3 linked regions of the Homo sapiens genome follow. The protein of the gene in region 1 binds, or shares a complex with, the protein of each later gene. Links are inferred from orthologs where the notes say so. Each region holds a gene or a part of one and is shown on either strand. Other genes may lie near its edges.

Region 1 (3,747 bases):
CATTTTTTTTTCTCCCTCTGCAGGTTTTTTTTTCTCTTCAAACTTCCGCATGCTGCCTTTTTTTAAAGTGTCACACTTTGGAAAAAATTCTGACTACAAAGGATTTTGCAGTACATTGCATTCAAACCCCTTTCCCCCTATTCCAACTTGCTTTATAATGAAAGTAAGAGCCATACTCAAGAGACTTTTATTGGCAATTAAGTATCTAAGGACTTTGCAGATTTTCTTCTTTATTGTATGGCAATCTTAAATGTTTAATGAATATTTAAGTAAACAAATTTCAGCAACATGCCTTTTTTAGGAATTTGGCTTTAATTAACATCCAAACACTGTTAATTATTATGGCAAAAACATCAATACGTCAAAAAAAAGCCTTCAGGCCAGGGAATCTTTAAGAAACAATTATGTCTACTAATTTCGATTAAAGGTATCCTTTATTAAATTCTTAACAACCCGTCTCTTTCTAAACGCAGCGCCTTCACAACTCTTCTTCCCTTCCCCCTACCCCGCTTCCCTCCCTCCGCAATGGAGCGCAATCAAAGGCCGTATTATTGCCTAAGCTTGGCTCTCAGGCCAGCTAGGGATGTGTGTGTGTGTGTGTGTGTGTGTGTGTGTGTGTGTGTGGTGGGGCGGGGGTGGGGGGCGAGGGTGCAAGGGGAGAGGTTGTACGCCGCTTTTCCGAACCCAGCTCTAAATGGTTTCTCCTAAGCGAGACAAGGATTTTCCATAGCCTAAAAGAGGCCATCAAGTTTTAACATTGCGAGGCACGACTTCTAATCGCATCCTTCCCGGAAAAGTACAAACAGTTCCTCAGACGAGGTCCCCCACCTCCCACGCGCTCCCCAGCCCTCCCTCCCTGCGGAGAGCCCCGCGACAGCCTCCCCAACACCTGTGAATCATCCGGGAGGCTGCCACCGCCGAGCGATCCGCGCACCACCCCCTTCCCGGGCCCGGGCACGGCCAGGGAGGACAGTTAGGGTTGTTGCTTTATAATTATCACTTTTAATCTCTAATACGACCAGCACAAGTAGCCTTTGTCTCCCCGCCCTGATTTGAGCATCCGAGGGCCCCCCGAGGCAGCCTGCACGGGTACCCCGGGGTTTGCGCACTGAGTGAACCCCCAGATTCGGCCGTGTCCCAGCCGTCCTTGCTCTGAATCCCCCACCTCCTCCCGGCCGTTTGGACGGTTCCCTCGGGGCGTCTGTGCCTCCGTGGGGTACCCCTAAGACACCCAGCATGAAACCCCAGCACCGACTGCAAATTCCACCGAAAGCAGAGTCATCCGTTTTTGCCCTCGGCAAACAACTCAACTTCAAGCCTCGAGTCCTTGCAAACCCACGCTGGCTGGGCTAACTCCGCTTCCCTTCTCCTTCCCCCGACTCCTGCAACAGCTCAGAGAGCCTGGCTCTGACGTAGTTCAAAATAACGTGCGCCAGCCTCGCTGCCCGGCTGACCACAGCAACGAGAGCCACAAGCCCTCGACGCTGCTTCGATAACATGAAGCAATCACTCATAAAAATAGCAACCCACGTAGCCTGGCCATATATGGAGCTGGCGAGGGTGGACGGGGATGCCCCTACGGACCCTCTTCGGAGAAAACAAATCGCCGCTGAAATTTCCCCCACCCCTCCCATCACTACCTTTTACCCCTCCTCTGCCTTCCCCTCTCCTTAGATGACTCAACCACAGATTCCACTGAAAGGGGGTGGGGGTGGGGGTGGGGGGGAATATATACACATACACACAAATTATACATATATTATACATGTATTATAAAATATACACACACATACATATATACATACACACACATATACACATATGTACACACACACGCACACACACCAAAGAACATCAGGAATGCAGTTGCGGGATGAACGCGTTTGCCCAAGACCGAGTGTTAAAATGGAGTCATAAGAGTCGCCCCGTGCGGGTGTTTATAGAAGGTGAAAACACGCAGGTTTGCAGGCCAGCGCACTGGGAACCGAGTCAAGCGCGCCGCAGCCCGGGCCCCGCCCCCGCCCCCGCCGTGCCCCGCCCCCACTTCCTCCCGCCCCTCGCTGGGCGGCTATTAAAAGCTGCTGACGTCAAAACGGACGGCCATCTTTGATGAGGGCAGAGCTCACGTTGCATTGAAGACGAAACCTCGGGGAGGTCAGGCGCTGTCTTTCCTTCCCTCCCTGCTCGGCGGCTCCACCACAGTTGCAACCTGCAGAGGCCCGGAGAACACAACCCTCCCGAGAAGCCCAGGTAAGAACCCCCCTCCCCAGGTCGTGGCTCTGGCTCGGGATGGCTGCATACCCAGAAGGGACAGCAGCTGGGCAGTCCGAGTGGGCTTGGGTAAATACAAGTATTGGTGCACTTAGGGTGCGGTATTCCGTGTGTGCACGTCTGGTGGGGGCTTTATAAAGTGTTTTCGAGGTGAGCTGCTGGGGAAAAGGGAAACGGGAGCCCTGCAAATGGAGCGACGGGGAGGAAGAGCGAGGGTACGTACCGAATAATAACTTACTCTTTTGAAACAGTAGTGGGACCCCCTCTTTCTTCCATTTTGCGATGCAGTTTTCAGAGATATTTAGGCTGTTGAGTTTTCCTCCCCTGTCGTTCTAACCCTATTATTATGACTGTTGTCGTTAGGGTGCTATTATCCAGGGAAGAATTAAGGGGGAGACAGGGTGTGGGTGCTGGGGAGGCGAAAGGAGAAAGGGGGAGTTCCCGCCCCGGGCAAGCTGAGCTGCTGCAGCGACAGCAGCCTCCATGCCCCGCGGACTTGATTTATGCCGCCTGCTCCACGTCAACTGCAGGCTGGCGGGAGGCGGGCGGGTCGTGCCGGGTGGGAGGGCTCTGCGGAGGGCTGGCGCGGGTGGGCTGGCTTCGGGGACTGCGGCGGCCCGCGCTCAGCACCCTGGATAGCAACACCGAGGGCTCGCGCGGGCGCCCTCGACCTTTCAGCACCGGGGACAGCGGTCCGGCCGCAGCGCCTCATCTGCCTGCGGCAGAAATGCCTGGCCGGGGCTGGATGTGCCAGGGCTGGAGACCAAATTGTCTCCCTGAGACCCCGGTCTTACGGAGACCCTTAATAGAGGAGTCATAGTAGCTTAAAAGAAAACAAGAAAGAAATAAATCTTCCTCACAGAGACTCCTTTGCAGACAATTTCCTGTTCCCCTCCTCACCTCCTGCATAGCTTCAACAAAATAGTCTACTTGTGGAAATCTTCTGTGTTGCCCTCTGACCCTTATTTTACGTAGAAAATAAATACATTTTTTAAAAAATATGGATTTATCCTCCAGCAGGGTATCAAGGTTTTTGTTTGGTTTTGTTTTTTAACACAGAGTAGATCTGTCTACAGATCTTGGGTGAGCATAAGTACTGTATATATGAAGAAGCCAATGCTATCTGTTTATAGGGATGATACATCTCTCTCTATGTTTCCATTTGATAAAAATGTGAGATTAGCTGAACTAAGCAGAATCAACTTTAAGAATGAATCACTCTTCCTTTTCCTTCTTCCCCCATCCTTGCAATCAGGCATGAATACAAGCATTCATCCACAAAAACACATATCTGAGAAATTTTACTGGTCCTGTACTGAATAGATTTAACCTCTTTGGCCACGGTTTCAGAGTTACTGGAAGTATTTGCTATCAGCACTGGTTATCGCAGGCTGATAGCTTTAGATTTTGACAATATTAAGACTGGCCTTCCTCAGGAGAATCCAAGTGTGTCCTTCAGGGTAATGCAGGTAAAGA
Region 2 (3,747 bases), on another chromosome or scaffold:
CTTTAATATGACCGGGTAGTGAAATCTAAGGTGATGGGCACATGTTTCAAAACATATGTAATAATGTCAAGGATTTCCTTCTGATCCAGATGTAATGTTTTGACATTGAATGTTACATTGTTTCAGCTAGGTCCATGAAAGAAAAAATGTCTTCCAGCCACCATTCAGAGAGCTTTTCCCCTATCTTTCCAGGCACCTCTCAACATGTCAATCATTTGTGTAAGGCAGTGCAATTATTTGAAAGATAAAGACATTAATTTAATTCACCTTTTCAGTTACAATCCTCTAAAGTCTTCTAAAAGGCATTTTCCAGCAGATTACGAACGTCGTCCTTTCTGAGTATTGTGTCATCGCCGCTCCCTTCCCGTTCACTGCAGAGCCTCTCCTTATCTCCCTAGTGCTCCCTCTTCCATCTAATCCATCTGGCCACTACTGCCAGAGAAATTTTGCATCATGGATCTCCCACGTCCGTAAGTCAATGGTTTCCAGGGCCCACTACAATTAAATGACATTTTTCTTGTTTGTTTATCCTCTTTATTCAGTCTTCTTTTCACTTGTACCCAACCTGCACCCTCTAGGTGGTCTGTGCACACTGCGTCCATTTTCACTGCTGTCTTTGTTCATGGTGTTTGCCCAACCCTTACTTGGAAAGTTCTTTTCCACTAGTACCCAGCTCAAATCCCACCGCCTTTGTGACACTCGTTTATTCGATATATACTAACGTTTCCCTTTTCAAAGTATTCTATTTAGAGTTGGAAAAAACAGCATAGTATTTAAGTACTGTATTTTTCACTTCTCATCTAAGAGACCCACCAATGACCTATTAGTGTTTTATTTTTTGGTGTAGGTAACTATGTTGGTAGGAATATTTCAGTAACAAATATATACAAGGTAACTCACTGCGTTCAGATTTGTGCTTCCCTCCCTTCGACCAAAACCTGAGGACCTATTCTGTGCTAGGGCCTGAAAATACAGAAATAAAGGAACTACAGCCTTGATGCCAAGGCTCTCGTAAGCAGATTATAATATGATCTGCAGTGACAAATATTTGTGTCACCGATGAAAACATGAGCGGGAACCTCACCCAACACCATGTGACAAATACCCGAAATGGACTTCCTATTTCAACTACTTTAGAGAAACATGGTGCCCTCAGGATCACTAGGTTACTCTGGAACACTCAGCAGAAGCCAGTCATCTGTCTCTAATACTGTTAGAAATGGTCCCGAGCCCAGAATAACATGAATTGCCCCCACCCTCACTTATCCACGCAGTCCCTCGCCAGTGGCTAATGCACCACGTTTACAGACCACGTCCCCAAGCGCCAGCGCGGACGGCGGTGCGGACAGGGAGCTGTATTGACCTGCGTTCTGCGTTTCAGAGCCCGGACCGCCCTGGGACCCCTGTGGCCCTCAAGTTCCCAAGTGACCTCGTCCGGGGAGGGGACGTCTCGCTCTGACCCCGCCCTGGACGCACCCACCCACGACGCCCCCGCCCACTTCCGGCGCGCCCCCTCTTCGCCCCGCCCACTCCCCCGGCTCCGCCTAGTGACGTCTTTGCCCCGCGCCGCGCCGTCCCACCCATCTCCCTGGCCTCCGGTCCCAACTTCGCTTCTCTGCTGACCCTCTCTCGTCGCCGCTGCCGCCGCCGCAGCTGCCAAAATGTGAGTGACGCTACGCGACGCGGGCGGCTTCGGGCCCCGCAGGCGGCAGCTCGCGCTGGGACCGCCATACTGCCCAGTTGCCGCCGGCCGCCACTCGGACGCAGGCCGGGGCTGCGCGGGGATCCCGAGGCCTGGGGGTGGGCGGTGGCCCTTGGGTCGCGGGCTGCAGACGGGCCGGGCGGGTCCCGCGGCCATCGGGCGGACGCGGAAGGGGCAAGGGCGGGGCGGCGAGACGCTTCCCGGAGGAAGTGAGCTGCCCGCCCGCAGCCCGCTCCTCGCCCCTTCCCTTTCTAGTCCCCGACGTCCCTGAGAGGAATGGGGACGACAGCCCTGGTTCGGGAGCGCCCGCTCTCGGCCCGGTGCTGCGCTGGGCCCCAGAAGTTGCGAAAGAAAGGACCTCGGCCCTGTCCTGAGCCCCTGTGGGCCGAAGAGCTCCTTGCCTAGCTAGGGGCATCTGCACTGGAAAGATCACTTAACCGTGGGCCTTCGCTCTCTTAAGCGAAAGCACGTTGCAAACCCCTGCTTCCAGTGGTAAGACTCAGAGAATGCTAATGGTTAAGAATCACAAGGACTCCCTCTTCCACCTCCATTCTGCTCATTGCTCACCGTCGGAGGAAGCCCCGGGTTTCTTCCAGGAGCTGGGGACCCCCCTCGAATGTTCCTGCTGAGGCTGCTGTGCCAATAGATCACAGTGGTTAAGATCTAGAGCCAAGGTACACAGGACCTGATCTAAAAACAAGCTGTCCTGCAGCCAGCTGTGTTGACTCTCTAAACCTCACTTTACTCATTTGTAAAATAGGAGTAATATTCCCCTCAGAGAGTTATGAGGGTTAAAGGAGGAAAAGCATGGAAAGAGTCTAGCGCCACGGCATGGTCCTTACTTATCTACCAGATACTAAACTCCGTGAGGACGGTGATGAGATCTGTTGTAGCCCTGGTCATTGACACATGACAGATGTAAAGTGACTGTTCAAACAGCCCATCAGACTGTTGTATACCAAGGCACATGCTAGGTGCTATCTAGGATACAGAGAAGAGAGTAAGAAGACCCAGGAACCTGTGATCTATTCGAGGAGGCGGGACTTTATACCTGAAAAACCAAAGTGATACTTTCCAAGTAATGGAGCCAATAATGACTTCAGAGTCAGAGTGGTTAAGAAAGATCTGCATGGGGAGAAATAAAGCCTTTGATGAAGATTTTAAAAGATGAGTACCTTCCTGGGCCGGGCGCGGTGGCTCATGCCTGTAATCCCAGCACTTTGGGAGGCCGAGGTGGACGGATCACTTGAGGTCAGGAGTTCGAGACCAGCTTGACCAACATGGTGAAACCCCGTCTCTACTAAAAAATACAAAATTAGCCGGGCGTGGTGGCACATGCCTGTAATCCCAGCTGCTTGGGAGACTGAGGCAAGAGAATTGCTTGGACCCAGGAAGCGGAGGTTACAGTGAGCCGAGATCGCGCCATTGCACTCCAGCCCGGGCAACAGGAGCGAAACTCCGTCTCTCAAAAGAGGGGGAAAAAGAAAGAGTACCTTCCTAAAAGAGGAGGCATTTCTTCAACACACCTTTCCACTCACACCACCCACTCCCTGCATCCCAGTGTTCCTGACTCTGTTTCTGTAAATTAATCTATTTTTCCATATTGGAAAAAGGGCATTCTGTAACTGTTTGTAACTATGAAAACAGTTCCTTCCACAATGAAAAGATCAGGAAAGTACTGAGTACATTCAAGCAGATGTGTGCCTTAGAACAAGTTTCAAAAAAGGACAGTAGAGCTTACCTATCGTGGGATCAGATACTTCAGGGATACAAAGTAGGTCCTATTAAAGCTTAACATTTGTCCCTTTAGTAGGTGGGACAGTCTTGGAAATTATAGAGAAATTAGAAGAAATGCAATTAAAACTTTCGTTCATTGCTTCAGGAAGAATTTCTTTTTCTGTTTTAGTTCTAATGTAAGAGATTGTTAACAGTGAGAGTCCCGGAGTAACATCTTTATACTTAAGAAAATGTATTTGGAATCGTAATGTACTCATGCTCATGCCTTTACATGTTCCAGGTCTACAGGTCCAACTGCTGCCACTGGC
Region 3 (3,747 bases), on another chromosome or scaffold:
CCTCCCGAGTAGCTGGGATTACAGGTGCACACCACCATGCCCAGCTATTTTTTTGTATTTTTAGTAGAGATGGGGTTTCACCATGTTGGCCAGGCTGATCTCGAACTCCTGACCTTAGGTAATCCACCTGCCTCGGCCTCCCAAAGTGCTGGGATTACAGGCATGAGCCACCGCGCCTGGCAGAGACACTGTCTTTAAAAAATTGTTTTTTAAATGAGCTCTAAATGTTCTCATTTTAACTCCTGGGTCTCATGGGGAGAAGTAAGTGACAAATGTAGTAGTTAACCCTGGGCCATCTGGATGGGAAGCTTTAGATATGAGTCTCCAATAGAGAGAGTTCTCCTTCACTTTGCAGAGAAGTTCTAAGCAGATCTTGGTCTGTTTGAGATTTCCTGGCCTTTTTCCAATTTGAGCCCTTTCCCAAAGTTAGGAGGAATAGGACTCTTGAGATATGGAGCACTGGGAGCCATGGGAATCCATTCATCTTTATATATTTCCCCTTTTGATACTTTTATTTCATTGTCCATATAGTGAATTCACTTCAGAAAGCCAGTCTGGATCTTTCGGGGAAGGCTCTTTGGCCAAGGCTCAATGGTCTGATTTAGACCTAAAATTTCCCTTCATTCTACTCAAACCACCTGCTGAAGGGTGAGGTTGGCACATGCCATCCTAGCTGGGCTGTCAATTCCTTTATCACTCTGTCCAAACATTTGTGTTTTAGGACAGGTTATGGACCATGAAATCATGGCAGTTCACAGCTTGGGTATTCTTATTGTTGCATTTTAACCTCTTGCTTCCTATCTTTAGGAAAAATAAGGTCATTATGTTATCATTTTCACAGATGGGACTTGGAAACATTAAATGACTTTTCCAGAGTTGTAAGGGGGCTGGATCTGACTTCCAGAAAACCATCAAGTGCTTATTCAACTAAGCCACCCTGCCCCTTAGAAATTTCCATTTCTTAAGCCTCAGCTTTTCTGCTCTGAATTCTGAGAAACTCCAGGTACAGGTCAAAAATCTGCAGCAATGGGGGTGAGGACAGGTCATCTGGGCGAAACTTTGAGGGGCAAAACCACTTAGGGAGCCCCCCACACCGGTGCCAAGCTCTTGTCTGAGCAGAGAGGAGCAATGCAGGACTGGGGGCGTGTGGGAGACAGGGGCTGTGAAGTTATAGTTCCTTTGCTCTGAGAGTGAGCGACAGTATTAGAAAAAGTGTGTGGTAGGTAAGCTGTCACTGACTAGACTGTGTGATGTCGAGAAGTCCCGTCCCCCACCCCTCCGGACTCCCCCCTTCTCTGCTTTAACCATCCAATTACTTAACTTCTCTGCCTAGGGGTTCGCTTCCCACCCATCCCCTCCTCCAAGGCATCTTAGCGCTGTCCGTGGTGCTGACCGCCAATCCCCTGGTTGCCGTTTCGACCAGCTGGGATCTCTGGTGCGCCCAACCTCCCCTCCCGGCCTCCCACCTTTCTTTCTCCAGGCACCGCACACATAAATCACGGGTGGGAGGCAGGCTTGGTTCCCGCTTGGTTCCCCCTGCACTGGGAAGCTGCCGCCCCGCTTCCCTTGCTCACACAGGGCTTTGCAGTAGTGGTGGCAGCCGCGGCAGAAACTGGCTCTGGGGAAGCAATTGATTCGTCTACTGCCAGCAGCCCGGAGTTGCCTACGCGGACTGGAAAGGAAGGGAGAAGGGAGAGAGAGAGAGAGAGAGAGAGAGAGAGAGAGAGAGACTCACAGAGCTAAAACCTTCATCCATGTGGAGGACAGTCTGAGGGAGCCACTGTCCCTTGTCCACTGACTCACTGGCTGGTCCGAGTTTTCTCCGCTTCTGGCAGTGGTATTTCTTTTTGTCTTGGTCCTGCATGATTTAGGGGTAGTTGATGTGTCTGTGTGTCTACGTGTGTGCACTGGTGCTTTGATTTTATTTTGGGAAGAGTAGGAGAGTCAAATGAACAATTTTCTTTCAGGCACCTCCGCTGAGCTTTTAAACCAAGTCATTGGGACTTAGCGTCTTTCTACCCGGCAGGGAAGGGAGGAGTTGGCAAGAATTTGGCTCACCCATTCCCCCTGCAAGCCTCCAGCGTCGCGGTAAGTGATATTCTCCCGGGTTGTGCAGATGGGCTAGGGGTGTTGGAATCCCAATTGTGATGTGTGTTCATGAGCTGGTGGGGTAAAGGGTAGTTGGGAGGAGAAGGGTATCGAGGAACGACTATGCTTATTTGCCTACATCCTGCAGTGTTTTATCACCTAAGCGGCATCCCAAAGCCAAATGAGATTTTGGCTTAGTGCCCAGGGAGGGGGTAAAATGTGCTCATGTTGTAGGCAATGCGATCAAGATTGTGGCTTCTGCCCAATTTGCCCTCTCCTTTGCAGCAGAAGCTGGTGAAAGTAGCCGGCAGTTCTCTGAGAGAGTTAACCCTTCGTGGGGCTGGCTAGTCTAGCATGGAGGGACTCTGGGTACTCTGACTTAGCAAGTGAGTGCTTATCCCTGGAGGGGAGGGGGTCACCTGAGACTGGAAGGGTAACTTTTGCCTGGGCACACTGGGTAAGATTTGCACAGGACAGAGCTTAGATTGTACCCTCTTCTAGGAACAGCTGAGTAATTTAATTGTGGTGATTTTTGCGAGGTTGGCTGTTCACGCTTTCCTGAGATGGAAGACCTGGGAGCCAGGAAAGGGCCACACTATGCCTGGGATGAGTGGTCAGGCTGGCCAGAAGGGAGCAGCCACTGCCTGCAGAGGAGATGATGTTTTATTTTCACAGGTGGCGTAACCTGTAAGTGATTGTATGGGGGAGCGTCCTGGCACTAGCTTGGGAGATTCTATCCTTGAGTTCATCTCAGAAGGAAGGAGGGGAACAAAGCTTGTTCAAATTCTGGGGAAAGATTCCAGGCTTCAGCTTCAGTTTTGTTCCAGGGTAGACCGTCCCCCTGCACTAGTTTCTTTTTCCAAGATCCTGATGGGGAAAGGCTGCACCAACCTGTTAGTGAGTGGGAAGTGGAAGTACCTTGAAATTGAATCCAAAAGCTCACATTTAATTTTGAAATGCTTTTGATGCTAATCTGCTACCCATCAAAAGGGGATTTCACTTTGCTTTCTGCTTTGATTACATCTACTTTTCTGGAAATGAATGCCCTTGTTTTTAGCATTTTTGCTATTATCTCAGGGGCCACCTCAGTGTTCTGCACCCCCAAGGATTTCCTTTTTAGATTCTTGCTCTTGGAGGTGGGAGGAATAAAACAACAGTCAGAGATTGGCAAGCCTGAAATATAAGCAGGGTTCACTCATTCTTTTTTTCTCTAGCCCCATAGCTAAGAAGAGATGCTGAAATCCCACAGCATGTGCCTGCTCAGGCAGGACATATGAGGCAGAAGAGGAGGGTTGTCTGGTGGTTAGTGTCAAAGATTTGGTTCTCAAAATCCCTAACTTCTCTTCCTAGCTTCTCTTGCTGGGTGACCTTGAGGAGGAAGTTGCCTTAGATTCCTCACTGGGAAGACTTGAGTGTGAATAATGAATGTGTGGAAATTTTGTTCAAAAAAAGAACCACATATCTGGCTATGGGTGATATTTAAAGTATTGAAATTTGGTACTAATCGATCAGAATGGCTAGGGTCCTGGAATAGGGCATCTTAGGGGGCCCCTGCTGTACTGAGTGTTAATCTTTTAATTGCTGGATTATGGAGAGGTTTGGGGGGATCTTAGGGGGCTATCAAGAGAGCCACGAGGCCTCAGGGCAGCATCCCCATTT

Evidence for each region.
Region 2: the proteins of SNAP25 (region 1) and VAMP3 are in contact, whole or in part, in a crystal structure (PDB 5KJ8), measured with the Rattus norvegicus proteins. The link is inferred for Homo sapiens from one-to-one orthologs. Residues at the interface, in NP_112253.1 of Rattus norvegicus: Asp147, Leu150, Glu151, Val153, Ser154, Ile157, Leu160, Arg161, Ala164, Leu165, Met167, Gly168, Ile171, Asp172, Gln174, Asn175, Ile178, Asp179, Ile181, Met182, Ala185, Asp186, Asn188, Lys189, Ile192, Ala195, Asn196, Ala199, Thr200, Met202; in NP_476438.1 of Rattus norvegicus: Ser15, Arg18, Leu19, Gln21, Thr22, Gln25, Val26, Glu28, Val29, Ile32, Met33, Asn36, Lys39, Val40, Glu42, Arg43, Lys46, Leu47, Glu49, Leu50, Arg53, Ala56, Leu57, Gly60, Ala61, Gln63, Phe64, Ser67, Leu71, Lys74.
Region 3: the proteins of SNAP25 (region 1) and RPH3A are in contact, whole or in part, in a crystal structure (PDB 5LOW), measured with the Rattus norvegicus proteins. The link is inferred for Homo sapiens from one-to-one orthologs. Residues at the interface, in NP_112253.1 of Rattus norvegicus: Glu38, Asp41, Ile44, Arg45, Leu47, Val48, Met49, Asp51, Glu52, Glu55; in NP_598202.2 of Rattus norvegicus: His617, Ser618, Ala621, Ile648, Ser649, Ala650, Lys651, Gly652, Leu655, Tyr659, Leu662, Lys663, Lys665.

The regions. Positions count from the first base shown.
Region 1 is NC_000020.11:10,216,728-10,220,474, forward strand, and holds the start of SNAP25 (synaptosomal-associated protein 25), read left to right. Parts: upstream 1-2,102; 5' UTR 2,103-2,250; exon of another isoform or gene 2,251-2,486; intron 2,487-2,509; exon of another isoform or gene 2,510-2,779; intron 2,780-3,747.
Region 2 is NC_000001.11:7,769,723-7,773,469, forward strand, and holds the start of VAMP3 (vesicle-associated membrane protein 3), read left to right. Parts: upstream 1-1,573; 5' UTR 1,574-1,661; coding exon 1,662-1,663; intron 1,664-3,719; coding exon 3,720-3,747. UniProt on the Homo sapiens protein: SNARE involved in vesicular transport from the late endosomes to the trans-Golgi network.
Region 3 is NC_000012.12:112,790,176-112,793,922, forward strand, and holds the start of RPH3A (rabphilin-3A), read left to right. Parts: upstream 1-1,572; 5' UTR 1,573-1,837; intron 1,838-1,967; 5' UTR 1,968-2,088; intron 2,089-3,747. UniProt on the Homo sapiens protein: Plays an essential role in docking and fusion steps of regulated exocytosis.